Regions from separate parts of the Homo sapiens genome. Here all the other regions are linked to region 2. Evidence: fine-mapped expression QTL. A gene starts in region 2. Each other region holds a variant in brackets. All regions are shown on one strand. Distances are between the middles of the regions.

Region 1 (6,056 bases), 130 kb after region 2:
TGGCTTGTTTAGGCTTTTAAATGTCTTCTTGACCTAGTTTAGTTAATTAATATTTTAAAATAATTTCCCATTCATTTAATTTGCACAAATGGTCTCCTTTAACTCATGTCATTTTCTGTGTGATTGTTTCTCCCTTCGTATTCTCAGTTTGTGTCCTGCTTTCTCCTTCTTGGACTCTCTTGTGACTTAGGAGTTGAAGGCTTGTGGATTTATATAAATAACCAGCTCTTGGGTACATTTATCAGTCTCCTGATTTTATTTCTGTCAATTTCTAAGATTTTGATTTTGGCGTCTTCATTTTTTGTTATGTTCTGGAATTTCTGTGACTGTAGTGTTAAAGCTCTCTTTGATTCACATTTTCTAATGTCCATGTGGTGAAGATTTTTGGTTTTTAAACTTTTGTTCTCTATTTCTAGTTATGTTTTGGCCCTGCTCAGATCATGTGATCTGTATATTTTTCATCTTCAAGAAATTTATTCATGGTTTTATTGTAGGCCTAATGAGCAATTAATTTAGGGGTACCTGAAAAGATGTATATTTTCTGTATGGAGCATAAGGAATCTGTTACCTGTTTAATCAATTAATGTTATTCAAAATAAAGCAAACAAAAGGAATCACATGCAAGCATTTAAAACAAAGAAAATATGTAATATGCTGAGAGAAGTAAAAATATAAGACCAAACATGTATGTCATAACAGCAAACATAAAAAGGTTAAATTTCTATATTAAAGATGTGAATTTTAGACTTGGTGAAAAACAAGACTCAGACTTCTAAGATCTAACATGTATGTATATACAACAATAACAAAGTTACTCAGTGAGTTTGGTACAATCAAGATCTGTGTCAGGAAAGCATCATCTACCCAATACAGTAGACAAGTATCAAAAATAAAAGGCAGAAACTTAAAAGATAAGAGAAAAAGGCTAGGGGTAAACATAGAACCTACTTCAGAGGGTTGTTGTGGGGTGAGAAGAGGCATATGTATGAAGCCCTTACAACGTCTGCACATATTAAACCCTTCCTCAATTGGACACTAGTGTCTGGTGCTAATCTGCAGTCTTAAATAATGTATCTTGTTGAAAGTCTCAGGAAGGAATCTTCTCCCTAGACCTCAGCTCCTCTGGTTAGGGAGGCAGCGCCCATCATGCTGCCCTGCACTACCTCTCACCAAGTGTGCCTCAGCCCCTGGCAGGTTCTGAGGATGGTGCCTGGGCACAGACCTTCCCGGCCAGCGTGCTGCAGTTCCTCAGCCTCGTCCACCGCACCTACCCCCAGGACCCAGCGTGGCGAGCCCCGGAGTTCCTCCAGACCTTGGCCATAGCCGCCTTCCCCCTGGGAGCCCAAAAGGTAGGACATGCTGCTGTCCCACCCAGAGAGAGCAGTTGTGAGCATCATCATCCTTCAAGGGCAAAGGGCAAAATCCCTCCCCTCCCCCCTAAAATTAAAATACATTTTAAGGCAACTTGAGCGGAACATTGAATAAGCAGCTTGGATAACCATCCTTTTTTGGCTGAGATACACCTTGAGGTCATTTTCAGCTCTGAGATTCAATAATTTTTTTGAGCTGTTAAGAATCTCAGTAATGAGAAGTCTAATGGCAGATAAAGTCCATTGTCTGTGGCATACACAGGCACTGACAAGGGGAGACAGTGACTCCCATTCCAGGAAGTCTGCTGCTGTGCACCACATGGGGGAGGGCAGTCCTGGGAGTGCATCCTGCAAAAACTTTTGCTCTTGGGAACCCTCATCCAACTTGCAGGCCCCTGGGCCATGACTTGTGTGCCCTTCTAGGCAGTGGGTTTGCAGAGGCCCAGCTTAGAGCCAGACAAGCCAAGGGGAGGGCAGAGCCTGATTTAAGGATGAGGTCTTGGGTCTTATGCTCTGGGGGTTAGAGAAGGGGCTATGGGAAGACATGTGAGTTTGAGGCCTCCAGCTAGGCCCAGCAGGTCAAAGCTTGGCTGGGTCAGGGCCGTGTGGGACTCAGGTAGGCTAAGACCTCCTGGGAGCTGGGAAGCGAGAAGGAGGTGAGGACTAAAGAAGAAGGTCAGGTATGGAAGAAGGAAGGGCAGAAATTCACACAACCACCCCCACTCTGGTGGATTAGGAAGTGGAGACCCAGTGAGGGCAAGTGAGCTAACCGTGTCTTCCTGCAAGTTGCCAACTGTAGCTAAAGGAGCATATTTGAAAGGTGAGCAATGCTACATAGGGGGGTTTATAATCCATGCCAAGTGTGATGCCAGGCCTGGAGTGGTTGCTCCATAAACATTTGCTAAGTGCCCAAATGAATGAGCAACATGCTCTCTTAGCTAATCTTTTCCAGAAGCATACCCATGGCGGCAGCCTCCATCTCCTGAAACTGGTGCTTTAGAAAACCTGAATTGCCACCTGATGAAGGTGGTGTCTGAGAGGGGAAGCTGAGATTCAGAGAGGCAAAGTGGCACTCACCAGTTTCCTCCAGGCTCACTGAGGGTCACAAAACCCATCTCCCAGATTGATTGCAAGAATGAAATGTACTGAACTTCATGCGATTAACAAGAGACGGAGCCAAAGTTTAAATCTCACTCTTACCCCAAAGCCTTGTCCTTTTCATTACAGTCAGTTTAAAATAAAATTAAATGGCCAAATAAACTTTAAAAGTAGTTTTAATAAAAAGACTAAATATAAAGACCAGAAGTTTCACAAAAAGATAACATAGTTTTGAAATAGTTTGATGAATTCATATCAAGTAACTTACTAAAAAAGTAAGATAAAAAAGCAAACAAGAGTGAAGGAATGCAGCGTTGTTTGCAGGAGAGAGGTGGGATAGGACCCACAGCCAGAGGCGCAGGCAGCCTGGCCAGGGAGAGATCAAGGGCGAGCCTACAGGCTCCCCCTCGACACTTCCCTGGGCAGGTTTTCTGCAGGGGTCCAGCGGCCTAACATTCTCTACCCAGATGCCCAGCTCAGCCCCCATGCCCAAGGGCCAGGCTCGCCATCTGCTGAGTCGGGGCTCCAGCCGAGTGCCCCCGCCAGCAGCCCAGGTGCACACTCTGACCCAGGGCTCCTGCTCCCCATGGTCAGCAGTTCCTGCCCAGGGGAGGGTCTGGCCCAGAGTCACATCCCCAGCTGATCGCGGGCGAGGTCGGGCTTTTGTCTTGGGGCTCCTGGCTCTAATTCCAAGGTGTACCTCCCAGCCATCCTTGCCTTTTTCAGCGCTCCAAGTCAGCTCTGCCAAGGCCTTTGTTGT[A/G]TAGAAAACATGCCAGACCCTCTTCATGCAGAAGGCTGGTGGCCAAAGGCTTGGATTTGCTGTGAATTTATATGGCATCTTTCCAATCAAGGCCGCACGGAGCTAATTAATGCAGTCACTACCTCCCTAGGTGCCATTAAATTCATTTTATGGCTTAATTAAGAACGGCCGCATTAATTTTATGAATGAGCAAAGGGAGGTGCTAACAGATGAATGCGCAGGAGAAGTTCACGGGCTGGGAGTCAGGAGTCCCTGGCCGCGTGTCCTTGGGTGAGTCATTCAGCCTCCAGCATCTCTGTGTCCTCCTGGACGTATCTGGGGTAATGACCCCTGTCTCGTTGATCTCCCAACATTTTATAAATATAAAACAAAATAGTGGATGCCAAAGTGCTTCAGAAATTAGAGGAAAGAACTCTTTGGAGTCCCACTTCTCCACCGTTCTTGCCTGAGGAGCCTGTCTGTGGGCATCAGCAGAGACTGGGCAGGAGGTAGAGGTGGGGTCCCCATCACAAGATGGGCACCGACTCTCTCTGACTGTCTACCAGGGGCTGGGCATTGCCACGTTCGTTATTCTCTCATGTCATTCTCCCAGATCCGGTGTCAGATGGTTTTTATTGTCTCTATTTAACCGATGGGGAGCTGTGGCTTGGAGATGTGAAGCAGCTTGCTCCTGGCACATTCTGGAGTTCATCATGAACACTGCAGGCCTCTCTGACTCTGTGGTTTAGCTTCTTTGCACAACACTTGGCATCTCATATTCTCAAACAGTAGCAGGCCACTTTATGAGCAGCTGGATCCTGGGCAAGTTGCTTTCCTGTGCGGAGCCTCAATTTCCGTACATGTCACTGGGCATGACAATAATCCGCCCATGTACATGGCACAGGTTGGTGGGAAAGAGCTTGAGGCAGGGCAGGCCACTCATGTTGGGGTTCTCTTGTCTTTGAGGGGGTTGGGGCTGAGTCCACCCGGAACACCAGCAGTCCTGAGGCCGCAGCTGAAGGCGACAGCACAGTGGAGGGTCTCCAGGCTCCCACCAAGGCACATCCCGCCCGGAGGAAGCTGAGGGAGTTCACGCAGCTCCTCTTGAGGGAGCTCCTGCTTGGAGCCTCCAGCCCCAAGCAGTGGCTGCCCCTGGAGGTGCTCCTGGAGGTGGGTTGGAAAAGGTGACATTGGGCCATGTGCTGTGGAGGCTGCCGGCATACCGGCACTGCAAGGGCAGGATGCACCCAGGGAGACAGAGGGCCTGGGGGCCACAGCGAGTGAAGGGGAATCTGTGAACCATGGGCCCCAAAAAAGCAACAGGTGATAGAGGAGTGAGCACAGAGTCCCTAGAAGCAGAGCCTGAGGTGGGAGTTTTGTGGAAGTGAGTTATTGGCCAGTGGGTTGGAGGCGGTGTTCTCAGGAGAAGCAGGGAGGGAAGCAGAGGGGCAGGAGGTGAAGCTAGCCCAGAGGTGGTCCCAGCTGGAGCCTGGCCCAAGGGGGGTTCTGGGGTGCTCTCTGCCTCCCAGGGCCGGCCCCACCTGTGGCACCTGACAGGTGGCCGTGGGCTGTGGGCTCCCCTGACTTGCCTCCTTACCCTCGGAAGTGGGCGTTGCTTCCTGGATGAGGCAGCTCAGTCACAGAGGGTGGGCCCCCAGAGAAGGGAAAATTGTGAGCAGCCCACACTGCTGGCAGATGCGGCATAAGTGTCCCAGCCAGGCTAGGGAGGCGGTGGGCACTGGGTGCACACGATGGCCCTGTGGTTGCTGTCTCAGTCCCGGGCTGTGCTTCCAGGCTTCTCCAGACCACGCCACCAGCCAACAGAAGCGAGACTTCCAGTCCGAGGTCCTGCTTTCTGCTATGGAACTATTCCACATGACAAGTGGAGGTGATGCAGCGATGTTCAGAGGTGAGTGGGGCAACTCGGTCCCCTCCATTCATGACATGAGGCTGCTGACAGTGGAGAGGAAACCAGCATGCTGGCCAGGAACTGACCCTAGCTGTGGGATGCTGCCTCCACCTGGCGTCAGTCCCTCCAGGCATCATCAACAAGAACTCCCTGGCTCCTGCCTTGGGGCCCAGTGGAGGGGTGCTTGCTACTTTCCATGACACCCTTGTCATGCTGTGCCACTTACAGACAGAAAGCCCTTTTGCCTCTAAGCAAAAATCGGCTCTCCTGTAGCCTCAGTAGAAATGCAACCTCTTCCCATAAGGGAAACCAAGATACCACAATTTAACCTTCCGTGCTCAGCATTCTGCCTGGGTACGGGATAGGTGCACAGCTGATGTTTCTTAAACAATGAACCTGGATGAAGATGCTGCCATGCCCCTTCAGAGCTTAAAATTGAAGGTTCATTCAAAAAACTTGGTTCCAGGGCAGCTGTACCTTTTCAACAAGCCTAAACAAAAGCCTTTTCTGTGGTTCCCAAGCCACAGGAATCCCTAGGAACATGAGTCCTACTCTGGACTTCTCCTTGCCTCCTACTCAGAAGCCCTGACTTCATGATCCTTCTCATGGAGAGACTGGAATGCAGGAGAGTAGCAGGGTGGTGAAGTGTGGGTTTGGCAATCCCAGTTCTGGACTTGGCTCTGCCACTGGACAGTCATGCGACCCTAGTCAGGTGCCTGGACCTGTGAGTAAGGACGACAGTCGTGGTGAACTCACAGGGTTGTGCTAGGGGTTAGTTGAGATCATCACACACATGGCTGAGCACAGTACCTGCTGTGTTGGTGAGCATAGATGGATAATGACAGTATGGCTTTATCCTCTGCCTAGTGTAGCAGCAGGGCCCCTGGTCATCATGATGCCTGCTCATTTGTCTCAAGCAGCACATTCTCCCCCATCCTCC
Region 2 (6,056 bases):
ACCTCCTTCAGTGCTCGGCCTTGGGTCAGTTGACCTCTGCTGGGTCTCTTGGAGTCTCACCCTGTGCACACATAGGAATCCTTGGCCAAGGGCACACACAATGAGTTCCCACAAGGCACACTCTCCTCAGGAACCTGCCCTGAACATACCAGAGCCTTCAGCAGCTTTGAACTCTGACTTAAACCTTTTCAGTTCAGGGAGACTACTGTCTCTGGGGCCCCACCTGCCTGCATCATAGCAGAAAAAGCATCACTAGAAAAAACTCCAGGGCAATTGTGGGGCTCACCTTGTGTGTTTTCCTTATCTCAAGGATCACAGTCTTGCTATTCAATGCCTGAAAACAATTATCTTGTGTATTTGAACTATTCTATAGTTGCTTTCAATGGGAGGGTATGTCCTATACCAGTTACACCACCATAACTGGGTGCAGAAGTAAAACTGCCATTTTGGGGCAATTGTTTAAAAATCAGAGAATCTTACATTGCCCTTTAACAAAAATACACATTTACATTAGCAGTTCATAGTTGCCCTGGCTGCTTCAGTGTCTTAGCTTTGGCAACTCTCTCACTAATAATAGCTTGCATTTGCACAGCCCTTTTCAGTATTTAAAAACTCTCTTGGCCGGGTGCGCTGGCTTACGCCTGTAATCCCAGCACTCTGGGAGGCCGAGATGGGCGGATCACGAGGTCGGGAGATCGAGACCATCCTGTCTAACACGGTGAAACCCCGTCTCTACTAAAAATACAAAAAATTAGCCAGGCGAGGTGGTGGGCGCCTGTAGTCCCAGCTACTCAGGAGGCTGAGGCAGGAGAATGGCGTGAACCCCGGGGGGCGGAGCCTGCAGTGAGCCGAGATCGCGTCACTGCACTCCAGCCTGGGCGACAGCGAGACTCCGTCTCAAAAAAAAAAAACCTCTCTTGCAAATATTATTTGATTTGTTCCTTCTAACAAGGCATTCATTCATTCTGCAAATAAGATGTCAATTATCTCAGTTAAGATAGTGAGAATTTCAACCTTGAGTTTCTAGCTCTGAATTTAGTGCTCTTTACCTGCCTGCTGCTGGCTACCCGGCAAGGTGCTGGGGTGGGTAGAAGGTAGGAGACCTGGGTGCAGGTGGGCCCTCCAGCAGACTTTGCGAGATCCCACTATGACAGACTCTCCGCGCTTCCTCTGGGCATTCACAGGCATGGGGTCCTGGCCTGTCCCATGCTGGCCACCCTTCCTGCCTCTGTGGAAGTTCCTCTGTCTAATCCGCTCTTACCATAGGCCTCTGATTTCAGGCAATATCTTCTTGTAGATTTTATTTATGATTTCATTGGTGACAATGACGAGGGGTTTTCATCATATACAACAAACACTTCACTGCAAATTCTCTAAGGTTTTCTCTTTCCCTTGGCTGGCACTGCATGTATCCTTTCAATTTCTCTTTTCTTTTCTTTTTTTTCTTTTTTTTTTTTTTGAGACGGAGCTTCGCTCTTGCTGTCCAGACTGGAGTGCAGCTGGATAGATCTCCTATTTTGGCTGCTGTCTACTGACAAGTTTGCACTGGTGGAGGTTGAGGTTTTGTGACAAATGTTATTTTCCTCTTTAAACCAATCTTGGAGCTTTACTCCATGTCATAACAAGTGATGTTGTTGCTGCCTCTCAGTCAGTCATGCATGGTCCACTGGTTTTGTGAGCTAGAGACAAGCGATGAGCTGCACTGAGGATCAAGGATCAGGCATTAGCGCTAACAAGTGCCCTTGCTCTTTGGCAAAATTCTCCTTTTACAGAGCACAAGCAGGATTGTGTGTGAATGGACATGCTTGTTTGTACTGTGGAGATGACGTTATGGATAGGTGACATGGATAATTCAGCCTAGTTTATATACTCAGAGGAATGAGAATTTGGAGTCTGAGTTTCAGAGACTTCCATTCTATGGTTTTAGATGTCCTCTCATCCTTGCCTCAGTGTTGGCCGCAGGAGGACTCCCCTCATTGGTGGTTCAAGTTCTATCTGAGGATGGGGGAGGAAGAAATCCAAGTGGGCAACTCTGAGCTTGGTGGGGTGAGGGCTGCCCAACCCATGCCATGTCCAGGGGTGCACTTAAACACACCTCTGATTAGATTCACCTAACACCATCATTGTTCTCATTTTGCCAGAGGCCCAGAGAGGAGAGGTGTGCACCAGTGGTCACACGGCTAGTGAAGAGGGGACACAGAATCCAGACCTACTCTTCTAGGGCTGGGCTGTACTTTCCATTTTGTCCTTGGCCCCAACCAGCACCGCTTGACCACGGAGGCTGCACAGCCAGCCCCAAGGGGCCTTGCTGCAGAACCCAAGTCACCCGCCAGAACTCCAGCAGCTCCGTGGTCGGCTGGAGAGTGGGCAGAGTCAGGCATCTGCCGGCTCTCCACTTCTGCTTTCTCCAGGAAATGAGCAGAGACCCAGCTCCAGTGATTCAGAGTGAAACGGCGCTGAGGACTGACGATGTGGGGCCGGGTCCTCTTCCCCCGAGCCTGAGGGGCTGCAGCTGGGGATAGGGGGCCCATGCCTTCTGATGTCTACAGGCGCTGACGGCCACCCCTCCAGGTAGGCCACCTTGCTCTTGGCCCAGCCAGGCCAGCCTAGAGGTGGGCATATGGGCGCCGCCTGTCAGCGTGGGGCCTACTGGCTGCCTCCTGGGAGGCTGACTATGGGGCACATGTGACCCAGTGCCTGGTTTGGGTTTGTGAATGTGGGAGAGGAGGTGAGCTGGGGAGCAGGAAGTGTGTGTGGCGTGGGGGGCCCATGTGGTCAGGGCCACTCCAGGGCCTGGGTCTGCCTGAGTGTGTGTCACTGCTGAAGTTTGGGAGTCAGGCTGGGCTCCAGCAGCACTCCTCGACCTCTGACGGTAGGTCAAGTCCTTTCTCGGGGTCCTGCTATGAAGGGAACCCTGGGAAGGGCTGACACGGGCTTTCCTGGTTGTCGAGGGGGCGGAGAGAGCAGGCCGACAGGACAGTGAGGCTCGCCCTCCAAGCTCCCTCATAGGCCTCTGAGGAGTGCAGAGTTGGAGGGCCATTTCCAACGGGCCTCAGAGGGAGCTGGTCTATCCCGGCCCTGTCATTACTCCACTGGGTTCTGGTAAGTAGGTGCCTCCCTGGGCTCACTTCCCTCATCTGAATTATTACAGCAAACCATTGAAACGCCTGCATTTTCTGCCTAAGCAGGGCCACCTGCTCAGTAAGGACTGATTCTTCTTTTCCCCTGAAATGAAACTTCTAGAACACTAAACCGATCCTTTGTCCCAACTCATCTAAAGTGTGGGGGGGCTGGTTTGATAACTAAGGGCTCTATGCATTACCCTTTCCATGGAGCACACTAATTTTAATATGAGTTTATGTATAGTCATTCATTTAGTTATTTAACAAATAGGTATTGAGAAACCACGCCCTGCCAGGCTCTGGTCAAAGCGGACAGGGGTCTACGGTGCTCAGCAGGTGGGAGAATAGCAGGTAGGGTGGGGGTCTTGGGAGGGTGGGGATGGCTCTAGTCTTCTGAGAGGGGACCTGTGAGGGAGGCCGAGTCCTGTGGGTTTCTGAGAAGTGTTCTTGATAAGGGTCTGGAGGAGGAGACCTCGTGGAGGTTGGTGTGGCAGAGCCGGGTAAGGGGCATGCCTGGGGTTCTGGCCAGAGAGGTAGGGAACAGGGTCAGGTCAGGGAGGCCCTTCCTGTCTGTCCATCCTGAGCACATGGGCTATTCTTTCATGAACTTGGAAAGATTTTCTGTGTTGAAAGAAAAGAAAATTTCGGCCAGGCGCAGTGGTTCACGCCTGTAATCTCAGCACTTTGGGAGGCTGAGAGGGGCAGATCACCTGAGGTCAGGAGTTCAAGACCAGTCTGGACAACACGATGAAACTCCATCTCCAAAAAAAAAAAAAAAAAAGAAGGAAAGAAAAGAAAATTTAGAAAGACCATAATAAGATAGAAGTAATAAAAACAGCATAAACCCTGTGTGCTGACACCTTAGATTTTTTTAAAGATCAGCATCATCTCTGAGGTCCTCTTCATGCCCATCTTTCACCTTCCCTCTTCAGAAGCAGCAACAGTCCAGAATTTTGGGTTTATTGTTCCCTTGCTTCTTTTTCTAATTTTACATCCCATATTTAAATCGCTATATATGTATGATTGCAAGTTGTTGAACTCTGTAAACATGGAATTAAATATTCTTTTAAAATTTGCCTAATTGGTTCAAAAGTTTGTTTCTGAAATTTCTTCATATTGTTGCATGTACCTGTAGATAATTAAAGTTTTCTGCAGTACAGTATTCTATTAGATGAGTGTACCTCAATATATTTATCTGAGATGCTGTTGATGGCATTTTAGGTATTTCAAGAGTTTATTTTTTTTTCTATTATAAGCAGTGCCGCTAGAACTATTTTTGTACATGCATCTTGGGGCATGTGTGCAAGAATTTATCTTGGGTATATACTCTAGAAATAGAATTGGTGGGTCATAGGTTGTACATATCGTCAGCCTTACTGGATGTCACCACGTTGTTTTCCAAAGTTTTTGCCTCATTTTACCCACCCCTCAGCAATGCACCAAAGTTTCTGTTGCTCCACTTCTTCATCAGCATTTGATATTGTCTGGTACTGTATTTCTGCCAATCTGGTAGAAATGAAAAGCTATCTTAGCATGTTTTTAATTTGCATTGACCAAATTACTAAGGTTGGACATCTTTTTCATATGTTTATTGGCCATTTGGGGTCCCTTTTCCTGTTCACATTTTTTGGCCATTTCTCATCGGGTTACCTGTCTTTTATCCTATTGATTTGCCATAATTCAATACATATTCTGGGTACTACTTTTTGTCATTTATATATATAACAAATATTTTTCATTTGTTGGTGCCTTGTCTCCTTATATTCCTGTGGTTTTTATTAATGACTGAATTTCTTAGTTTCAAATAAGTTTATCCACCTGTCGCTTTATGATTTATACTTGTTATGTGTTATCTAAGAAATTCTCCACTATAAGGTTGTAAAATTATTCTCATATTATTTTCAAAAAATGTTATAATATTACTTTTTACACTGAAGTCTCTAGTCTGCCTGGAAATGGCTTTTGTGTATGGCGTGAGGTGGGAAGAAACTTTATTTTATTCTGCTTTTCCCATATGGATAACCAAGAGTCTTGGCACCATTTATTTAATAGGCCATTCTTTTTTTTTTTTTTTTTTTTTGAGATGGAGTCTTGCTCTGTCACCCAGGCTGGAGTGCAATGGCATGATCTTGGCTCACTGCAACCTCCACCTCCCAGGTTCAAGCAATTATCCTGCCTCAGCCTCCCTAGTAGCTGAGATTACAGGTACATGCCACCACACCTGGCTAATTTTTTTTTTTTTTTTTTGAGACAGATTCTTGTTCTGTCACCCAGGCTGGAGTGCGGTGGTGCGATCTCAGCTCACTGCAACCTCCACCTCCCAGGTTCAAGCGATTCCTCTGCCTCAGCCTCTCCAGTAGCTGGGACTACTGGCGTGCGCCACCACATCTGTCTAATTTTTGGGTTTTTTAGTAGGGATGGGGTTTCACTGTGTTGGTCAGGCTGGTCTTGAACTCCTGACCTCAGGTGATCCACCCACCTCGGCCTCCCAAAGTGCTGGGATTACAGGCATGAGCCACCACACCCGGCCTAATAGGCCATTCTTTAGTCACTGATCCATGATAGCTCTGTTGTGAGTTGAGTTGTCATGTGCATGGGGGTCTTTCCTGGTTCTCTATTCTGTCAATTTGTCTAACCCTTTGACAATGCTAGACAACATTGTTAACCACAGGTTTATAATAAATTTCGGTATCTGGAAAGAGCCTCCCCATTCTTTTCTTCTTCCATCCTGTCTTGAGAATTCTTGGTATTTTACTCATTCATATAAATTTCAGAATTGGCTTTCAACAGAAAAAAAAACTATGTTCAGATTTGACTGGAAATATAATTTGGAAAGAAGTGATATCTTTATGAAAATGACTTTTCCAATTCATAAACGTGGTCTGTCTCTCCACTTATTTAGGTCTTCTCTAAAGTATTTAAATACAATGTTAC
Region 3 (5,796 bases), 37 kb after region 2:
CTGTACAGGATTTGAAATGGTAAATGAGGAGAAACAGGAGGGGCTGGGTGAGGGCTGAGGAAGGGAGAAACCTGGAGAGGCACTCCTGGTGCTCCTATGGGGGCAGCAGGCACCTGGCAGGGCCATCCACCGACGCCAGATGCAGCAGGCTGTGGGGAAGGCGGTGGACTGGGCTCTGTGTGTTTGACATCTTAGGGGCTCGTGTTCAGGTGGATGTCTGAGCAGTTAGAGAATCTGGAGGCGTTGGTATAGGGATGATGGTTGAGGCTGTGAGGGTGGGTGACGTGGTGGCCTTTTGCATGCACCTGGGAAAGGAAGTCGAGCTGTCAGCTTGGGCTGGTGAAGGGTGGCATGGCAGGCAGTGCTCATGCCCTGCTTGTGGCATTGCTATCTCTGACCAAGTCCCATCTGTTGCTTCAGGCCTGGGAACACTCCGTGGGGATCATCTGCTTTCCCAGTCTCCAAAGGCTGGCTGAAGACGTGTCTGACCAGCTTGCCCAGCAACTCCAGAAGGCCCTTGTGGGGAAGCCTGCGGGTAAGAGCATGGAGGTGCTGGCAGACCCTCTACAGAGAGCAGTGCAGCCCTGCATGCCCTCCCAGGCCTCTCAGGCCCCCCTCTGCTTTCGCGTGGAGCTACAGTGTTGCCTGCCAAAGAGAAGTAGGCCCCACTCTGCCACTGAGTGCCTTAGGGACCAAGGGAAATGCAGGAGGAGGGAAGAGGGGTCGGGGAGCCCTGCTGTTCCTGGGACACAGACATAGACAAACACACACACTGCACATAATACATTATACACGGACACACATAGACACACTACACACAGATGCTATACACACACAGACACTACACACAGACATTATACACAGATACACATAGACACACAGAGATACAGAGACACATACACATACACTACACACACAGACATACACACTACACACAGACACATACAGAGACTACTCACAGAAACTACACACAGACACACACTCTACACATGCAGACACACCCAGAACACACTACACACAGATATACACATAGGCACACACACACAGACACACTGCAACACAGACACACACACAGAACACACGGGACCACGGTCTCTGGGAGGAAGTGCTAGGATTGAAGATGCACCTGTGTGTTCAGTGGAGCTCTTGGTCCTGAAAAGACACAGAGGCCAAAGTGCATCTCTTGTGGGGCCTCCTGACTTGCATTCTTCCCCTCATGTGCGCTGGTCCCTGGAGGCAGGGCAGAATTTCACAGTGGCTGAGGGCCGAGGGTCAGGAGGAAATTCTGAGGGGAAGAAATTGCTCAGCATGGTGTAGATTTCAGGAATTCTTGCAGCATAAGAGACTGTGTGATCCAGGAAGTAGGGGGAGATTCTGGATTGTGGGGAGTCTGATAGCCGATTAGCTTGTTCTTACTCATTGGCAATCAGGAACCACTGATGGTTGCTAAACGGGGACGGTGGCACAAAAAACGCTGTCTTCCAAGGAGATTAGTCTGGCAGGGTGTGGAGCGTTTGGTAGAGATGCAGGTGGCCTTGGGGATGTGTAGGCAAGATGCCAAAGTCCTCTACAGATGCTCAGGCACATCTCCTGGGAAGAGGGGGCCCTGGATGGAGGGGAAGCTGAGTGGGCAGGTCGCTGTATGCCCTGCTGGTGACACTTTCTTCCAGAGCAAGCTCGGTTGGCAGCTGGACAGTTGCTGTGGTGGAAGGGGGACGTGGATCAGGATGGCTACTTGCTCCTGAAGTCAGTGTACGTGCTCACGGGGACAGACTCGGTAAGTTTCAGACCATCAGCCTCTGCCCTGGGCACTGCTCATCTAGGTGCAGAGGGAGGTCCAGCACAGGGTGGTGGCATATCCCAAGAGGGTCATTCGTTTCATAAAACAGGTTTATTATTTCTCCTCCCTCCTCCCCTTCTGGTGTAGAACATGGACTTCAGAGTCTGAAATTCCCACCTTCCCAGTTGACAAGCTGTGTGTAACTGTGGCCAGATTGCTTTACCTTTCTGCCCCTTGGTTGCATTTCTAATTTTAGGATTGGGGATAATAATGCCTCTCTTCTGGGGTTAGTGTAGGATTGATAACGGCTGATGTTTATTGACTACTTCCTACCTGTGGGGCAAGGCTGGGTGTGTCCCAGACATCGTCAGTTAATCCTCCCAAGGACCCTATGAGTCAGATCTTGGTGATGCCAGTGAGTGATGAGAACGCAGGCTTACCTACGCTGTGCACCTGCAGTCTATCTGATTCTAGAACCCATGCTCTGAGCCACTGTTCTTTATTTCTTCCTGTTAGAGTCAGCCTGAACGACATTCCCTGTAGGTACCTGTCTCGCCCTCGCCCAGAGATGAGGGCTCTCCTCTTTCTTCCCTTCCCACCCATACCCACCGCATGCCAGGAACACAGCAGGGAACCTGGGTGGCTGCTGCCCTCAGTGTAACTTCTCCAAATTCTTCCAGCTTCTACCTGCTAGCCAGTTCCAAAGCTGCTTCACTAGATGAACCCAGACATGAGATGGGCATTTGCAGCCGTGCTTGGAAGGGTGATAGGAGCACATCACGCAGCCCTTGTCTGGGGCCAGGGGGTGGTACATGACCTGGGAAGTTAACTGAAGGGAGGACCTCCTGACACTTCTTCAGGTGAACTGCCTGCATCACTGTCAGGCACAGCGACCTGAAGCACAGCACGAGGGCGCATCACATGTGCCCCTGGGGGAAGGACTCTCTGCAGTCTAAGTGGTGACACTTTAACCTAAGGGCTTGTTTTTCACTGCCTGTGCATGGTGCATCGGGGGTGAGGTGGGGGAAGGACAGGGAGAGCTGCCCTGAGGAGGTCAAGGTTAACAAGGAGTCAAATACATAGAAGACAGTACATTGCACTGTAAACCTTTCTGGCCAAGGCTAGGACCAGCAGCCTGCATCTAGTCCTGATCCTGGCCCAGACTGTACATTCGTCCTTCTCTTTCTCTGACTTCCCCAACATGTCTGTCAGGTTAACCAGTGGAATGGGAAGTTGCATGGACAGCATTCCATAGGTTGACCCCAAAGGTGTTCACATGTGTGCATGCACACACACACGTGCACACACACATGCACACATGCATCATGCACACACACACACGTGCGTGCGCACACACGCACACACAGAGGGTGCAGGTGCAGTAATCCTGGTGGAGCTGCAGGCAAAGCCCCAGGAAGAAAGACCCCAGGAAGCTCCTGGCAGGCTGGTCTCCATCTCTGCAGAGTTCCTGTCCTCTTGGCCTCTGTCTGGCAGCCCTGAGCTGTTTAGTTGAGTTGCTGGCTGTCTGATTGTCAGTCATCACCTATTGCACTCTT[T/C]GGACCTTGACGAGATCTGTCTGGGATCTAGATGAGAGGTTGGGGAGGGGCCTGATCAGGTCCTCACCATTGTTGCTCACACACATATTATCAGCCTCACCTCTGGACTGCTTTCCCTTCCTAATCATGAGGCCCTGGACCACAGTCACACAGTATGATTTGTTAGGAAGCCCTTATGTTCTAATTTCTACAGTCCCTCCCCTTTTCCCTCCTTTCCACCCTCCCTCCCTCCCTCTCTCCCTCCCTCTCTCCCTCCCTTCCTTCCTTCCATCTATGAATCTTATAAAGGAGCTATAGAGCACATAGTAAGCACTTTATATAAACTTAATCTTCACAGCCACCCTAGGTGCATCCTCTGGTTGTCAGCATTTCACACTTGAGGACTGGAGCCCAGAGGGACTGTCCCATGGCCTCACTGAAATGGCTGCAGGGGCCTGATCCTGGGTCTGGGCTGACCTGCTTCTGCTGCCTTGCTGCCTGGGGTCACGTGTGCTCTTCTCTTGCAGGAGACGCTGGGCAGGGTTGCTGAGTCTGGGCTTCCAGCCCTGCTCCTACAGTGCCTTTACCTCTTCTTTGTCTTTCCTCTGGACAAAGATGAGCTTCTTGAGAGTGATCTTCAAGTTCAAAAGATGTTCGTGCAGGTGAGTTCAAGGAGGGCCTCCAATTCCCTGGGTCAAAACCTCACTTCGGGGACAGACTCTCCAATGCTTCCCGTAGATGCTTTTGTCTTTCTCAGCCCTGGTTCCTGAACTCCTCTGTTCTCCCAGAGGGTCTAACCTCCCCCTCCCCTCCCCACCACTGCACAGTCTGCCCCACTAGCAAAATAGTAGCCAAAATTTTCTAAATATAAGCTTTGTACCCACCCCTGTGCCATGGCCTCACATGGGTCACCTCCAGGATTGCTGTCTGCCATCACAGGATGTAAATAGTGTTGTCATCCTGGGTCCATACAAACTGAGGCATGGTGAGTGAGCATGGGGTCTGGGGTCATAGAAGTCTTGGGTGGGGCTGGGATTGGCACCCTTGAGTAAACTTGAGTTTACATGTTCTCGGTGCCTCTTCCTTCCTCTCAGAAGACATCTCAGGCCTCTAAGCATCAAATGCAATTTCCTTCTGTCATTCCCCATCTTTCCTCTTCTCTTTGACTGACTAACTTCTCACCTCCTTCCCCTGCCCACTTCCGGGCAGTTTCTGCTTTCTCACCTTCTGAGACTCTGAGCTCTCTAGATAACCCTTCCTGCTCCCTGAGCTTGCAGGGGACGGTATGGAGGATCGTGTGGCCCGGGAGGATACAGAGGACTGTGGGGCCCGTCGCTGTGTGTCCAGTGTCTGCAGTGTCTCACACAGAGCAGGTGCCTGTGACTGTTCAGTGAATTCCCAAATGCAGCTGTCCATGGTACACACATGTCCACATTGGCATCCACATTAGACGAATTCCCAAGCCCATTCCTCATTTCCAGAGGGTAGTGCATGAGTTCTGGCAGGTTCCATTAACAGTGGGTTACCCTCTGAGCTGCATTTGTGGAAATGTAGGTGTCATCTGCTTGTATGTAAATCATATTCTAATTGGAGGCCAGGACGCTGCACCAGGCACTTTCACAAATGTTTACTGTGTGGCTTTTAGGTGCCCTGAAGGGAAGTAGTGCAGGGTCTGTCTTCGAGGTCTTCTGGGTATGTGGACAGAATGTGTGCCACAGGGAATAGACCATTCCTGCATTGCTCAAGGGTTTCTGTTACTTCATTTCACAAAAATATACAGAGCCCCTACTGTGCGCAGCTCTATGGCAGACAGATGGTTGCTGCAGCAAGCATAGGGCTTCACTTTGAGAGGTGACAGAAGGATGAAGAAGTCAAACAAGGGGAAAACAATCCAGGAATAAGTGTGTTGTTAGCAATTAAAAAAATAGAGATGGGGCTTTTCTCTGTTGCCCAGGCTGGAGTGCAGTAGTTAGCAATTTTTTAAGTGCTATGTAGGTAAAGCCAAAGGTATACTGGGCAATGATGGTGACAGGCTTTTATTTGTATGAGAGAAATCAGTGGAGTCTATTCTGAGGGCATGGCATTTAACCAGAGAGCTGAGGGTTGTCAGGGTCTGAGGAGGTAGTGTGGCCGGGTGGGGTGGAGGAAGTGGAGAGGAGCAGAGAAATGGCAATGCAAGCCCAGGGACAGGTGAGACCTTGGTCACATGGCCACAGCTACCTGCAAGGGAGGCAGGGAAATGGGACCTACAGCTGTGGTCCATGAAGCCCAGCTTCTCTCTGTATCAGACTAGAAGGGGAAAATGTCTTCCCATGGAAGTAGCTTGTGATATTTGTCACACTGGCAGCAGGTCCTGTTGGACCCCCAAGAGCCCAGGGGGGAGCTGCAGTGGATAAAGTGAGTGAGAAGGCAGTGCTAGTCCATGCAGGATGCTATGGGCCATGCTACGGTGGTGGGATTTTATCCCAAGTGGAGAGGGAG
Region 4 (6,056 bases), 28 kb after region 2:
GCAATACTCCTGCCAGTGAGGTCTGCCTTATAGTTGAAGTCTAGTTGTAGCATTGAAAGCACTTTTTATAAGGACTTAGTGTTTACTTGACTATGGATTTGGGGTTATTTTTGAAAAGCGTATACCTACAAAATATTCAAAGCAGAGAGAACAAGAGCTACTTTTCACGTTTGAAAGTAGACTATGGCAGATGGAGGCTTTGGCATGTTTTCACTGCTAAATGCCTTTGTGAATATATTTCCTCTAACTTATTCATCAGAAATATTTAAGGGTTTCCAAAGATTACTTAGAATCTTGTTGGGAACACGTTTATAGGATGCATTCCATACTTAGCATTAAACAGTTGCCAAGTAACTCACTGTCCATTAATTCATCATTTTCCTCCATGTTTTGGACTTGTAGTCCCATTCATCTCATTTCACAGACTGCATAACTAGGGCTAGATTAGTAAAGATAGCTAAAGATTCTCAGCCCTAGCCCTGCCTGCCCTGACAGCCCCAGATTCTGGGAGGTGCGACAGTCTTACCCCAGTTCCCAGATCAACTTTGCCTTATGGAAGGGACAATGTGAGCAGTCCCCAGCCCCCAGTGCAAGTCACTGGCAATGGGGATGAGTTCAGCCATTACTGAGCTGCTAGTTCTCGGTGACACTTTTCCCACCTGCATGGGCAGCCCGGGCTCTGATGAAAGGACTGCACCCAAGAGCCAGGACTTGATTCTTCTTCACCTCCCTGATGTTTATTTGAGAGTTCATTTGTTTGTTGCACCAATATTTATTAAGCTCCTATACTCTGCTCTAAGGCCTGAAATATAGGAGTAAAGAAGACAGAGGTGACACACCACCCTCATGGTGAGTGTGGCCCAGAGCAGACGGCATCGAATAGCACACTGTGTATTTCATTTGGCCTGCAGGGGTTCAGAATGAACTAGTGGCCATTTTTTTTCAAAATGGAAAGTTTTCATATGAAAATCAGATTTCTAATTTATCTTGAAAATTTTGGTAGATCTAATACTGACGGTTGTATGGGAGGGGTTATGGGGTTCCCCAGCTAACCTCGGAGCTCACTCCAACATCTTTCACCCAACCCATATTACTAATGAATGTTATGTCACCGTACAGGCATGTGAGCTTGTGACTCCATATTTAAGTGTTACTATTATAAGTGAACCTTGATACTGGTCTTTGTTTTCCACACCCTGTCCCTATAATTGGAGGCATAATGACCCTGTTGTTGAACATGTGGGCTTTCTAGTCAAACAGATCAAGGCTCAAGTCCTGGCTGCATCACTTATTTATTAGTTGTGTGCTGTTGAGCAAGTTACCAACTATTGCTGAACCTCAGTTATCCATAAAGTAGAATTAATAGCATTTCAATGAGAAACCATGAGGGTAAGACAAGACAATGATTATAAAGTCCACAGCTCATGGAAAGTAGACATTATTCCCATTACTTTTCCACCAGCCTCCAGTGTACTTACTGCACATGGACTGAAGCCTTTGAGATTCCTGTCGCCAGGATTCCCTAAACTGCTGACACAATCTGCTACTCTGGATCCCTGGAACCCACCTCTGGCAAACCCTGCAGAGGCAGAATATTATAGGCTTCTCATAATTTTCTTAATATCTGTATTATTTTATTAAGTCCTACATGCCTATGAAACATGGTTTCTATTACATTCTGACGGACTAATAAAACCCTGCCAGAGCCAGAGTGCTCAGCCTTCTTAATTAATAGTTGGTGGTGGAAAGAAAGGTGGGGAAGATGGGAGATTTTTCTCAGGTGTAGTGCAGATCAAATCTAACCTGAGATGAAGCATGAGAACATTTACTGGAATATAGGCCCTTGTGTAAGAAGATAAGCTTGTAACCACTCTGTTCTGAATTTTATAACCACAAAGCAGTGTTCTTTAAGGTTTTCCATGAAGTTCCCCCTTGGAAATAACAGAACCTAAAATGTTATGCCACTTCTCCCGGAATGTGGCTGTTAACATCAAAGCCTTATACATGTATTGGTTGTCATGGAAATCATACTCTGCCTGGGCTCTGAGACTCCTGAGTACAAACAAAGAGTCCTGAACTCCCATGTGTGATGGAGCTCAACTCTATACCTGACTCTTCATTTTGGCCCAAAGAAAATTAATTAAGATTATTTGGAATATTCTTTGTTCCAAAGCAATGCACACAAGGGATTTTGAATTGTCACTTCTGCTCGGAAAGGCCATGTCCCTAGGGTGTGGGGTCTTGTCTGACTGACCCCCAGCCTCTTTGTCGGTCAGACTCTGCATGGAAGCGGTGATCTATGTTGTAGTTGGGGCTGGGTGAATCAGGTTGACAGCTGTGTGTGCCTCTCCTAAGTTGCTGTCACCTGGTAGCTTCAAACTTGTGAGTCTTGAGATTTGACAATGGGCATTGTCTTGTGCATCAGACTCCCTCAGAGCTACTTCTTTGGCATCTTCTTCCCAGAAAAGAACTTCCCGTTAGCCTGTTTGGTTTTCTTCCATATCTGACTCCTTCAAACACGAGCACTGAACTTTCCTCTATCCCTGTCTTTGTTTATACTTGAATCTGCAGTAACTGCTAGGCAAGTACAAAGGTGGGCTTGGTTTGTGGTACAGTGAATCCCAGCCCCACTGCCTCTTGAGTTGAAGAGTGGCTGCAGGGGTGCTAACCCAGTCAACATTTTGGCTATTGTCTAGGTAATAAGGAAGAGCCTAATGGGATCTCAACAAACTGGAACCCAAAAAGGGAGCTTCCCTGAGGGGAGGAGTGAGAAATGGGATTCTCATCCAGAACAGCAGGCTCCCTCCTCACCTAGGGTTCCTCACTCCTCTTGTTAGGTCAAAGAGTTCTTAGCCAGGGCAAGGTGAAGGATGTTTCAGTCCTGATCTAGGGTCAGATCCTTCCAACCTAGCCTCTACCCCTTTTCTTTTATTTCTTTTTAATATCACCCTATTCTTTCTTTGACCTGTGCTAAGCAACCTGTATATTAGAAATGAGACTAAGAGATGAAATGATGCCCTAGGTTCCAATACTAGCAAGGGGCAGAGCCAAGACTTAAACTCAGGCACCCTGATGCCCAGGTGAGCAGTTGCTTTCACTGATGATAGCTAGGTAATATCCTACAGGTTCTAACTAGCTAGCCAGACATTCTGTTCAGTGTTTACATGTCCTCACAATAACGCTGTGATGTAGGTAGTATTTTTATCCCAGCTTTATAAATGAGGAAAGAGAGGCTTAGGGATGTTGCATAACTTGGCCAAAGTCACCCAATTGTCAGCTGGTAGCAGAATGTCACCAGGGCAGTCTGCTGTAGGTCTGCATTATTAACCACTGGATGTCCTTGCTCAGTGCTGGGGTTTCTAGGATAAAGCAGGTCTGGTTTGTCTTTCCTTATTTCATGACTCACTGGACAATGGCTTTGCCTGGCTAAGACCTTGCCTTTTCCTTGGGCTCAAAAAGAATGTCTCCCCCACACATAGGATGTTTA[G/C]ATTGCTGACTGTAGGATGTTGCAGATAAGGAGGAAGTTTTATTTCATCACATGGAAGCAACACAGAGCCAATGACTTCTGTGGTGTGCAGAGTAGTGTTTTTAAGAAAGACTCAATAGGCTGTTGTTCTTTTCCTGCCAAGAGCCTTGGGGTTTGGTCTTTTCAGAACCTTTCCCATCGTATGGTCTCACACCAAGGGAAGAAGGTGTTCTTCTAGCAATCATGGGAAGGTGCTGGTTTTGGGGGAAGAAAATCACTTGAGGTCCTCATTTTGCACAGAGATATCCTGTAATAATAGAAATGGGGAAATCTAGAGCTACAGAAGTAGCCAATGAGGTTTATTCATAGAATGTGGACTTTGAGAGAAAGCAGAAAGTAAAATAGAGAATCCTCAGCAATTAATGCAAAATCTATCAGTGTCTGAGATAGACAACTTGGGAGGTGGGACCACATTGGAGAAAAGGGAAATATGTGGATGTGGTAGATTAGAGGTGCTGTGAATGGGCTCACACTCCTCCCTTCAAGAGGTGGGATCTTTATCCCTTCCCCTTGAATCTAGATGGATTTGTATCAACTGGGCTAATGGGACAAGGCAGAAGAGACATTTCCAAGCATAGGCCTCAAGAGGCTCACAGCTTCTTCTGCCTCTCACTTGGCATACTCACTCCTAGAGTCTAGCTGCCATGTTGTAAGGAAGCCCAAGTAGTTCTGAGTGAACACCTGTGTGGAGAGGATCCAAGGCCCTGACCTTGAGGCTGCACTTGCTGCTGACTGCCAGCACCATCTTGTCAGCCCTGTGAGCACACCCACAATCTTGGAAGTGGATCTCTTAGCTCCCATTAGCTGCCCTAGCAGAATGGAGCACAGAAAAGGTGTCCCTGCTGAGCCCTGCCCACATTGCAGATCCATGAGCAAAATAAATGATTGCTATTATTTTAAGCCACTGAATTTAGGGGTGTTTTGTCATGCACAACAGGTAACTGGAAAAGTGGGTAACATAAGAAGGAATACATCCATTTCCTAGTATGAAGGGATTGAAATGAACACTAACTTAGTTGTATTTAGAGGTGAGTGTATTTTGGTGTTTGTGTGTGTGCATATGTGCACATTCCTAGGCTGACTACTAAGCCAATGGTGCAGAGTTTGTGATGTTGAGTATGATTGATCATTCTTGTAAAAACCAAGTGTGGATCTAACTGATAGTTGAAGAAAGATAAACACCATTAAATACAATAGCAAAGATGACCAAGAATTATTTTTTTATTTTTTTTATTTTTTGAGAGGGAGTCTCACTCTGTCTCCCAGGTGGAGTGCAGTGGCCCGATCTCGGCTCACTGCAAGCTCCGCCTCCCAGATTCATGCCATTCTCCTGCCTCAGCCTCCTGAGTAGCTGGGACTACAGGCGCCGGCCACCACTCCTGGCTAATTTTTCTTTTCTTTTCTTTTTTTTTTTTTTGTATTTTTAGTAGAGACGGGGTTTCACCATGTTAGCCAGGATGGTCTCAGTCTCCTGACCTTGTGATCCACCTGCCTCGGCCTCCCAAAGTGCTGGGTTTACAGGTGTGAGCCACCGCGCCCGGCCACCAACAATTATTTTTAGATGTGGTGTCCTGAGGGGACAGTAAGGGTAAGCCCTCCTCTTTGTCCACTCCTGACTCTACCCCATCTTGGAGTGGGACCTGCAACATGGTTTATTCCCATCTTCGGGAAATAACACTTTTTAGCAAAGTTTTGATGCGCCATTTTTTTTTCAACAGAGGAGAGGGTCTACTGCATCACACTCGCAGGGAAACTTCATGCAAAGTCTCAGAAATGTTTTGAGCTCACTTAAAGACAAACCTGCCAAACTCTGCAGTAATGGAGTAATAATGACATTTTGTTCGTGCTGGAATACCAACCATGTTCTCTTTGTCATTCAAAAGCTGGGTTTTTCCTCTCATCTCCCCTAGAGCTTAGCCATTCTTTATTTTCCTTTGGAGACCAGAGCATCATTTTCTTTCTCTTTCTTCCATGTGAAGGGACAGCCATGAGGCACGATGGTGCAGCTTAGATAATGTTAGCAAATAAAAGTTTTTTAAAATATTGAGCAATATTCTCCCAGCATGTAAGTCCCAGTTTGGGAAAAAATTAGGGCCTTTTGGAAGCTGCCTTAACTCTTTGGGGTCCCCATGGTACCATTTAGTAAATGATTGGCTCTGTGCATCAAACAGCACCCCGGTGGCCTGAAAGAGTTAACGCAGCTTCCAGAAGTGCCCATCGAGGTCCCAGGAAGGAGTCTGGGCCTTGGGAGATCTGGCTCAGAGTACAATTACTGTTCAGCTCACAGTGGCCCAATTTGCTTTATTGTGGAGTGCCTCCTGGAGTCCCACTGCTCCAGAGACGATATAGATGCTTCTGAGTCAAATGCCTGCAAATTGGTCTTTGAGGGGTTTGTCAGTGCAGGGAGGAGTTGCAGGGATTTGTTAGAAATACATCGTAGCAGCGTTCTCATTTCTAGGGAGGGAAATCATCTCGCCACAGAAATTCCAAGGCAAAAGGACAGACTTTTTCTCTCCAGGGATTAACATGT
Region 5 (6,056 bases), 95 kb after region 2:
TTGAGGCCAGGAGTTCCAGGCTGCAGTGAACTATGATTGAACCACTGCACTCCAACCTGGGCTACAGTGTAAGACCCAGTTTCAAAAAAAGAAAAGCAAACATGAGTCTTGCCTTGGTCCTGAGTATCTGCAGATGAGTTGTTCTTCAACTTTGCTCCTCTTTTAGAGCAAGATGTTCTGTTCATTGTGCATCCCAAGGGTCCAGCCTATAGCTAGGGACTCAATTGACATTGAAAAATTGGCTCATTTCGCTGGTGACTGATGTAGGCTGAGATGGACACATTACCTGCCTTAGATCTCTCTCTAGAGAGAAATATGAGTTGGGCTGATGGCCGTTGAGAATAGACCAATCTTTGGCAAGTGGCTTCTATGCACAGCACTGCACTTAGCTGAAAACACGCTGGGTGGGACAGTGCAAGTGCCTGATGCTGCCTGAGCCACACGCTCTGTTAGGAGAATTGGGTTTGGGGTTTCTATGGGATCATGGGTGCTGGGGAGCCATTGCCTTCATGACGTTTTTCCATGTGAGTTGGCACCAAGTCTGAGGACACAGCAGCTGATCCTGCCTGTTCTGTGAGGACAATGGACCTGTCTATATCGCCAACCCTGTTATGTGATGGGAGGGCACATGGCATTCCTAGATTGGTGCCCTTTCCTATCCAAGGTTCAGCTGAGCTAGGCCAAGGTCCTCTGCCCCACAGAGCACACTGCCTGGCTATAGATCAGCTGACCAGGAGCCCACGTGTGACGGACCTCAGGGAGATCGAGATCTTCTCTGCTCCCTTGGCAAGGCAGCATGCCATAATGGGGAGGAGACAACTGGTGATTAGGCAAGACACCCAGTAGGTGCTGCACCTGGGCTAAATCAGCACCATAGTGAATCTGAACATGCATGCTCAGCAGGGCAGAACAAAGCCTGAGGGCATGCCTGTGTTCCCACCCAGGTGCCACCAGACCGTTCCCTCCTCCTGGAGGTCTGACCTTCTCCTGCTGGTTCCTGATCAGCCGGCATGGAGCTGCCACTGAGGGCCACCCGCTGCGCTTCCTGACGTTGGTGCGCCACCTGGCCAGGACTGAGCAACCCTTTGTTTGCTTCTCCGTCAGCCTCTGCCCAGACGACCTCTCCTTGGTTGTTTCTACAGAAGAGAAGGAGTTTCAGCCTCTGGGTAAGGTGCTGGGATCCAAAGCCAGTTTCATCCACATGTGGGGGAAATGGGGCTAAGTCAGAAGCTCTCAACACAGGTGTGGTTAGAAACCTGGTGACCTTCTGTTTCTCCTCATCCTTTGAAATTGCTCCCTTGGGTTCCATACCTGGTGAAAGGTCTACAATATTTGTTGTGGTTCACTGTGGCCTGGGCTCTAGGCTTGTAAGTGTCAGGCAGATGAGGCCCCAGCCCTTGGCACAGCTTCAGAGATGATGCTCAGTGGCTTTTCAGAAACTTCGCCCTGGCAGAACAGTCACAATGGGACCCAGGGCTTTGCCTTGCTGGGACACAGGCTGCATCCTCTCCTGAGTGAGGTTTGTGAAGAACACACACAATTTAGCTGGAGCCGAAGCAGCTACAGACATATAGGCGCTCCCACATATGCTCAACCCCAAACCCAGAAGGCTGGCCCATGCTTGGCATGGCGCCCAGGGCCACCCCTCCTTTGGCAGTGCTAGAGGCCAGCCCTGGCTCTGCCCTTTGGAGCCCAGCGTTGTTCTCCAGGCTCATTTGCCTGAGATGGTCAAGTCCAGTGGATTCTGTCCACTTGTTCTTCTCCTGTGTCCTGAGAGTGTCACTGTTTCATAGGGAAAAACATTGGGAGGCCCTATGAAACAGTGGAAGCGGCTGACACCCTTGTACACAGCACAACTGCCTATCCAACTCTCTGGGACTCGGCCTACAATGGAGTCTCTGTGGAGGTAGTCTACCTTGGGATAGACCTGAAGCCTGGCTTCTGGGTTTGAATCCTGGCTGTATGACCTTGGGCAAGTCACCCAACCTCTCTGTGCCTCAGGATGGTAAATTGGGCATGTATGAGCGCCTACCTCACAGGGCTGTGAACATGACATGAGTTGATATTTGTAACATGCTTAAAACTGGCACAAAGGAAGAGCTCAAAGAATGACTGCTGCTATTGCTGCTGCTGTTGTCATTTTTCATGAGAGGAGGATCTAGGGCTCCATGGTACAAGGCCCAGTGGTTGACGTCCGCCTATGCCCTCCCCATTCTCCTGGGTTCCTGCAGTGTAGCACCACACGTGAGACTCAGTGTTCATGCTGTCTTCCAGATGTCATGGAACCTGAGGATGACTCCGAGCCTTCTGCAGGATGCCAGCTTCAGGTCAGGTGTGGCCAGCTCCTGGCTTGTGGTCAGTGGCATCACTTGGCTGTGGTTGTCACTAAGGAAATGAAAAGGCATTGTACAGTTTCCACCTGTCTGGATGGACAGGTCATTGGCTCTGCCAAGGTGAGATGGCTCCTCCAAGCTGCACTTGCCCCACAACCATACCTCCTGCTACTACCCTGAAGTGGCCTCGGTTTCATTCTATGTTTTTGTTGTTGTTTGTTTGTTTGTTTATTACTGGTAGGGTTGGCATCTAATGAAATCTGCCTTACTGTTCAGGAAACTTGGCTGAGTTCAGACATGAAAAGGACATCTTTAGAAAATGCATTGAAGGTCACGCTACCAGGGCAGAAGGCAAGACATGCATCCAGGTCTCTAAGAATAGTCATGTTCATGAAAATAGAAAACTCCAGAATGAACAAAGCAAAGCTTCTCATTTTGAGGGGCAAACTCCTCAGGGAGGTCTGGGCAGGGCCTAAGGTATGACTTTTCCAAGAAGCTCCCAGGTGAGGCCAACGCAGCTCATCTTTGCACCACACGGAGGAGCAGGACACTAGAGTGGGCAGACACCAACACGTGTCGTCAGATTTAGAGCAAGAACCATGAGGAAGGTAATAGAATGCAAATGTATAGCTGGAGGAAGCATCTCATGGCTGTCATTTAGAGACACCCCAGGTATAAGAGAAAGCTGGGAAAAGGTGGAGCTGGCAGGCGCCAGCAGCCATTGTCAGAGAAGAGAGGGCCCGGAGGACCATAGAAGGCAGGTAGGGCTGGATTTTCACACAAGTTCCAGGGAGAGCATCCCAAGCTGGCTGCATTTTAAAATCACCTGCAAAGGCTTTTTAAAGTTCTCTTGCACAGGCTGCACCCAGAATAATTACATCAGAATCTCTCTGGGTCAGGTAATTTGACAACTTACTAATGTTTGTAAAATTTTCTAGGTGATTCTAATATGCAGCCAGAATGGAGAACCTTACATACACAGGGTTTCTGGATTCCCCCTAAATGCCATAGTGTTCCTCCCCTGACCTTGCCCAGTTGTGACCACCAGTAACATCTCCAGACATTTCCAAATATACCCTGGGGGTCAAAGTTGTTCCAGGTTAAGAGTCATCAGATGAGAACAAATTCTTAGTCCCAAATTCTGTGGGACACATATAGGTGAATTTGATACCATCTGCTGGTAAAGTTCTGTTATCAAAAAAAGGCAGTGATGACCAAATATATATATAT[G/A]TGTGTGTGTGTGTGTATATATATATGTGTGTGTGTGTATATATATATATGTGTGTGTGTGTGTATATATATATATGTTTTTTTGAGATAGGATTTCGCTCTTGTCGCCCAGGCTGGAGTGCAATGGTGCGATCTCAGCTCTCCGCAACCACTGCCTCCAGGATTCAAGCGATTCTCCTTTCTCAACCTCCTGACTAGGTGGGATTACAAGCGCCCACCACCATGCCCACTAATTTTTGTATTTTTAGTAGAGACGGGGTTTCACCAGGCTGGCCAGGCTGGTCTGAAACTCCTGACCTCAGGCGATCCACCTGCCTTGCCCTCCCAAAGTGCTGGGATAACAGGTGTGAGCCACTGCGCCTGGCTGACCAGAAAGATTTTGACAGGGGCATTGAAAGAACAGGTCCTTCAAAACATAGTTAACCTTTTCTGCAATTATTAACAATATCAGTCCTCCCTCCTTCCCTTTCTCTCTTTCTTCTTTTCCTCATTAAATATTTATTGAGCACCTGTTATGTGTTAGCTAATATTTTAGGTGCTAAGAATTGTTTATGCCTATAAGCTAAAGACCTCCAGGAACATACATATAGTATAAGGTGCTAAGAATTGTTTTAGGTTCTAAGAATTATTTATGCTTATAAGCCAAAGACCTCCAGGAACATACATATAGTATAAAATAAAAATTAGATTTAAACTGACTATAGCAAGAGATTTCCTATCCCATGGGGTAGTAAGGAGTTAGGAGTGGCTTGTTACAGAAACTAGATTCATTTTAGGTGATTTTTAAAAGGGTTTAAAGAAGTGGAGGTCTGTCTGTTCTGAATTGGGTGCTGCTGGAAAGAGGTGCAATTTGGTGACTGTGAATGTTAATAACTTTTATCCAGAAGGTAGAGACACGGAACAGGGCTGGACTTATCATTAGAGAGGAAGCAGAAGTCCCTCACATTAGTTGGGATGGGATGTGTGGTGTCTTTTGTGGTTGCAATATCTTTGTTTTTATCTGTTTAGGCTCAATTACTGAGTTCACTTGTTCTTGTCTTCTTTCACAGAATATGTTGATATTTTGTGAAATACTTCAAATACCTTGAGGCATGTCTTATTGATGTTTGTACCTTCCTTGAACTTGGCGCAGGGGCTGACACACAGTAAGCATGGAATAAACACTTGATGAACTGAATTGAATGTGCAGCCACAGGAGGAACATGACTGGCTGCTAGTGTGGTTGGGTGAAGTGGTACAGGCATTAACATCCTCCCTGCGGGACCTGCTAAGCCTAGGGCCATCAACAGGGAGGTCAGGAGTGGTGTGTTGCTATATGGAGTGGCCAAAGCCAAGACTGACAGAGTGCGCTTTCCAAAATAATCTCAACAAGTTGGGTCAGGACCAGCAAGTGAAACTCAACCAAGATAAACATAAAGGCCTGTGTTTTGATGCAAACATCTGTTGGACAAGAGTAAGATGTGAGAACTTCAGCTTAATTTGACTAGTTTAACAGCCCTTCTCAAAATGCTGAGCCTTTGTTTTTATTGCCAAAGGAAACTTACATAAATTTGTAAAGATATGGAGCATTTTAATAGTTTGAATTGGGCAAAATGATTTGGGAACGATATGAGACATTAGACATTTATTAGGCAACCTGAATGGGGCAGTGTGCATACACTGGGAATTTGGAAGACAGGAGCAAGGTGGGTTGGAGGGGTGAGTGGTGCTTCAGTGTGGGAGAGAGAGGAGGACTCTGTGCCTGCGAGAACAGAGAGATAAGAGAGCACAGAAAATCATACTCCTGGCAAGCCTTGATGGCTGAACAATTGGTTTGTTTTTATTTGAAAATCTCACTTAATTGGTAGAGTGAAAAAGAATATTTCTGAAATTCTGTAAACTCTCATTTAGAAAAATACAGTCATCCCTCAGTTTCCTCAGGGGATTGGCTCCAGGACCCTTCCTGGATACCAAACTGCATGGATACTCAAGTCCCTTAAATAAAATGGTGTAGTATTTGCAAATAATAGATGCATACCCTCCTGCATGCTTAACTAAGCTCTAGATGATTTATAATACCTAATACAATGTGAATGCTACATAAATAGTTGTCATACTGTATTTTTTTATTTGTATTTTTTATTGTTATAGCACTATTTTTTATTGTTCTTTTTCCTGAATATTTTTGAGCCAAAGTTGATTGAATCCAAGGATATGGAACCCCCAGATATGCAGGGCCAATTGTACATATTTATATATGTACAATTGTATATATCTTATGTATATATCTTATGTATAAAATCAAAGATGTATATATCAAATGTATATATCTTATATATAGTGATTTTATAGTAATTATAAGAATAATATAAATGCATTTTGAAATAGCTCAAAAATAGAGAAAAGATTAGCTACCCTCCTACTACTTTATCATATTTTGTAATTTCAGTTTTATCCCTTTAAAAAATAGTGTGGCCTCGAAGTATAGAAAATCTTGTATACTGCTTAGTTCAT

The links. PIP is the estimated chance that this variant, and not a neighbour inherited with it, causes the effect.
Region 1: its variant is the best candidate, but not a certain one, in a credible set for the expression of WDFY4 in lung (GTEx, PIP 0.57).
Region 3: its variant is the best candidate, but not a certain one, in a credible set for the expression of WDFY4 in whole blood (INTERVAL, PIP 0.84).
Region 4: its variant is the best candidate, but not a certain one, in a credible set for the expression of WDFY4 in whole blood (TOPMed, PIP 0.50).
Region 5: its variant is the best candidate, but not a certain one, in a credible set for the expression of WDFY4 in whole blood (INTERVAL, PIP 0.70).

The regions. Positions count from the first base shown.
Region 1 is chr10:48,816,061-48,822,116 of GRCh38, forward strand. WDFY4 (WDFY family member 4) reads left to right here. Exons shown (of 62, transcript NM_001394531.1): 32 at 1,185-1,349; 33 at 4,174-4,377; 34 at 5,002-5,116. Among named protein-coding and RNA genes, the nearest start is that of LRRC18, 120 kb to the right of the region's middle. The variant A/G (reference allele first, on the strand shown) is at 3,229.
Region 2 is chr10:48,682,431-48,688,486 of GRCh38, forward strand. WDFY4 (WDFY family member 4) reads left to right here and starts at 2,443. Exons shown (of 62, transcript NM_001394531.1): 1 at 2,443-2,571. RefSeq lists enhancers at 1,365-1,444, 2,375-2,674, 2,693-3,233 and a silencer at 1,665-1,714.
Region 3 is chr10:48,719,591-48,725,386 of GRCh38, forward strand. WDFY4 (WDFY family member 4) reads left to right here. Exons shown (of 62, transcript NM_001394531.1): 3 at 421-535; 4 at 1,671-1,777; 5 at 3,843-3,977. Among named protein-coding and RNA genes, the nearest start is that of WDFY4, 38 kb to the left of the region's middle. The variant T/C (reference allele first, on the strand shown) is at 3,337.
Region 4 is chr10:48,710,880-48,716,935 of GRCh38, forward strand. All of the region lies in intron 2 of WDFY4 (WDFY family member 4), which reads left to right. Among named protein-coding and RNA genes, the nearest start is that of WDFY4, 29 kb to the left of the region's middle. The variant G/C (reference allele first, on the strand shown) is at 3,488.
Region 5 is chr10:48,777,667-48,783,722 of GRCh38, forward strand. It overlaps WDFY4 (WDFY family member 4), which reads left to right. Exons shown (of 62, transcript NM_001394531.1): 18 at 945-1,166; 19 at 2,275-2,453. Among named protein-coding and RNA genes, the nearest start is that of WDFY4, 96 kb to the left of the region's middle. The variant G/A (reference allele first, on the strand shown) is at 3,564.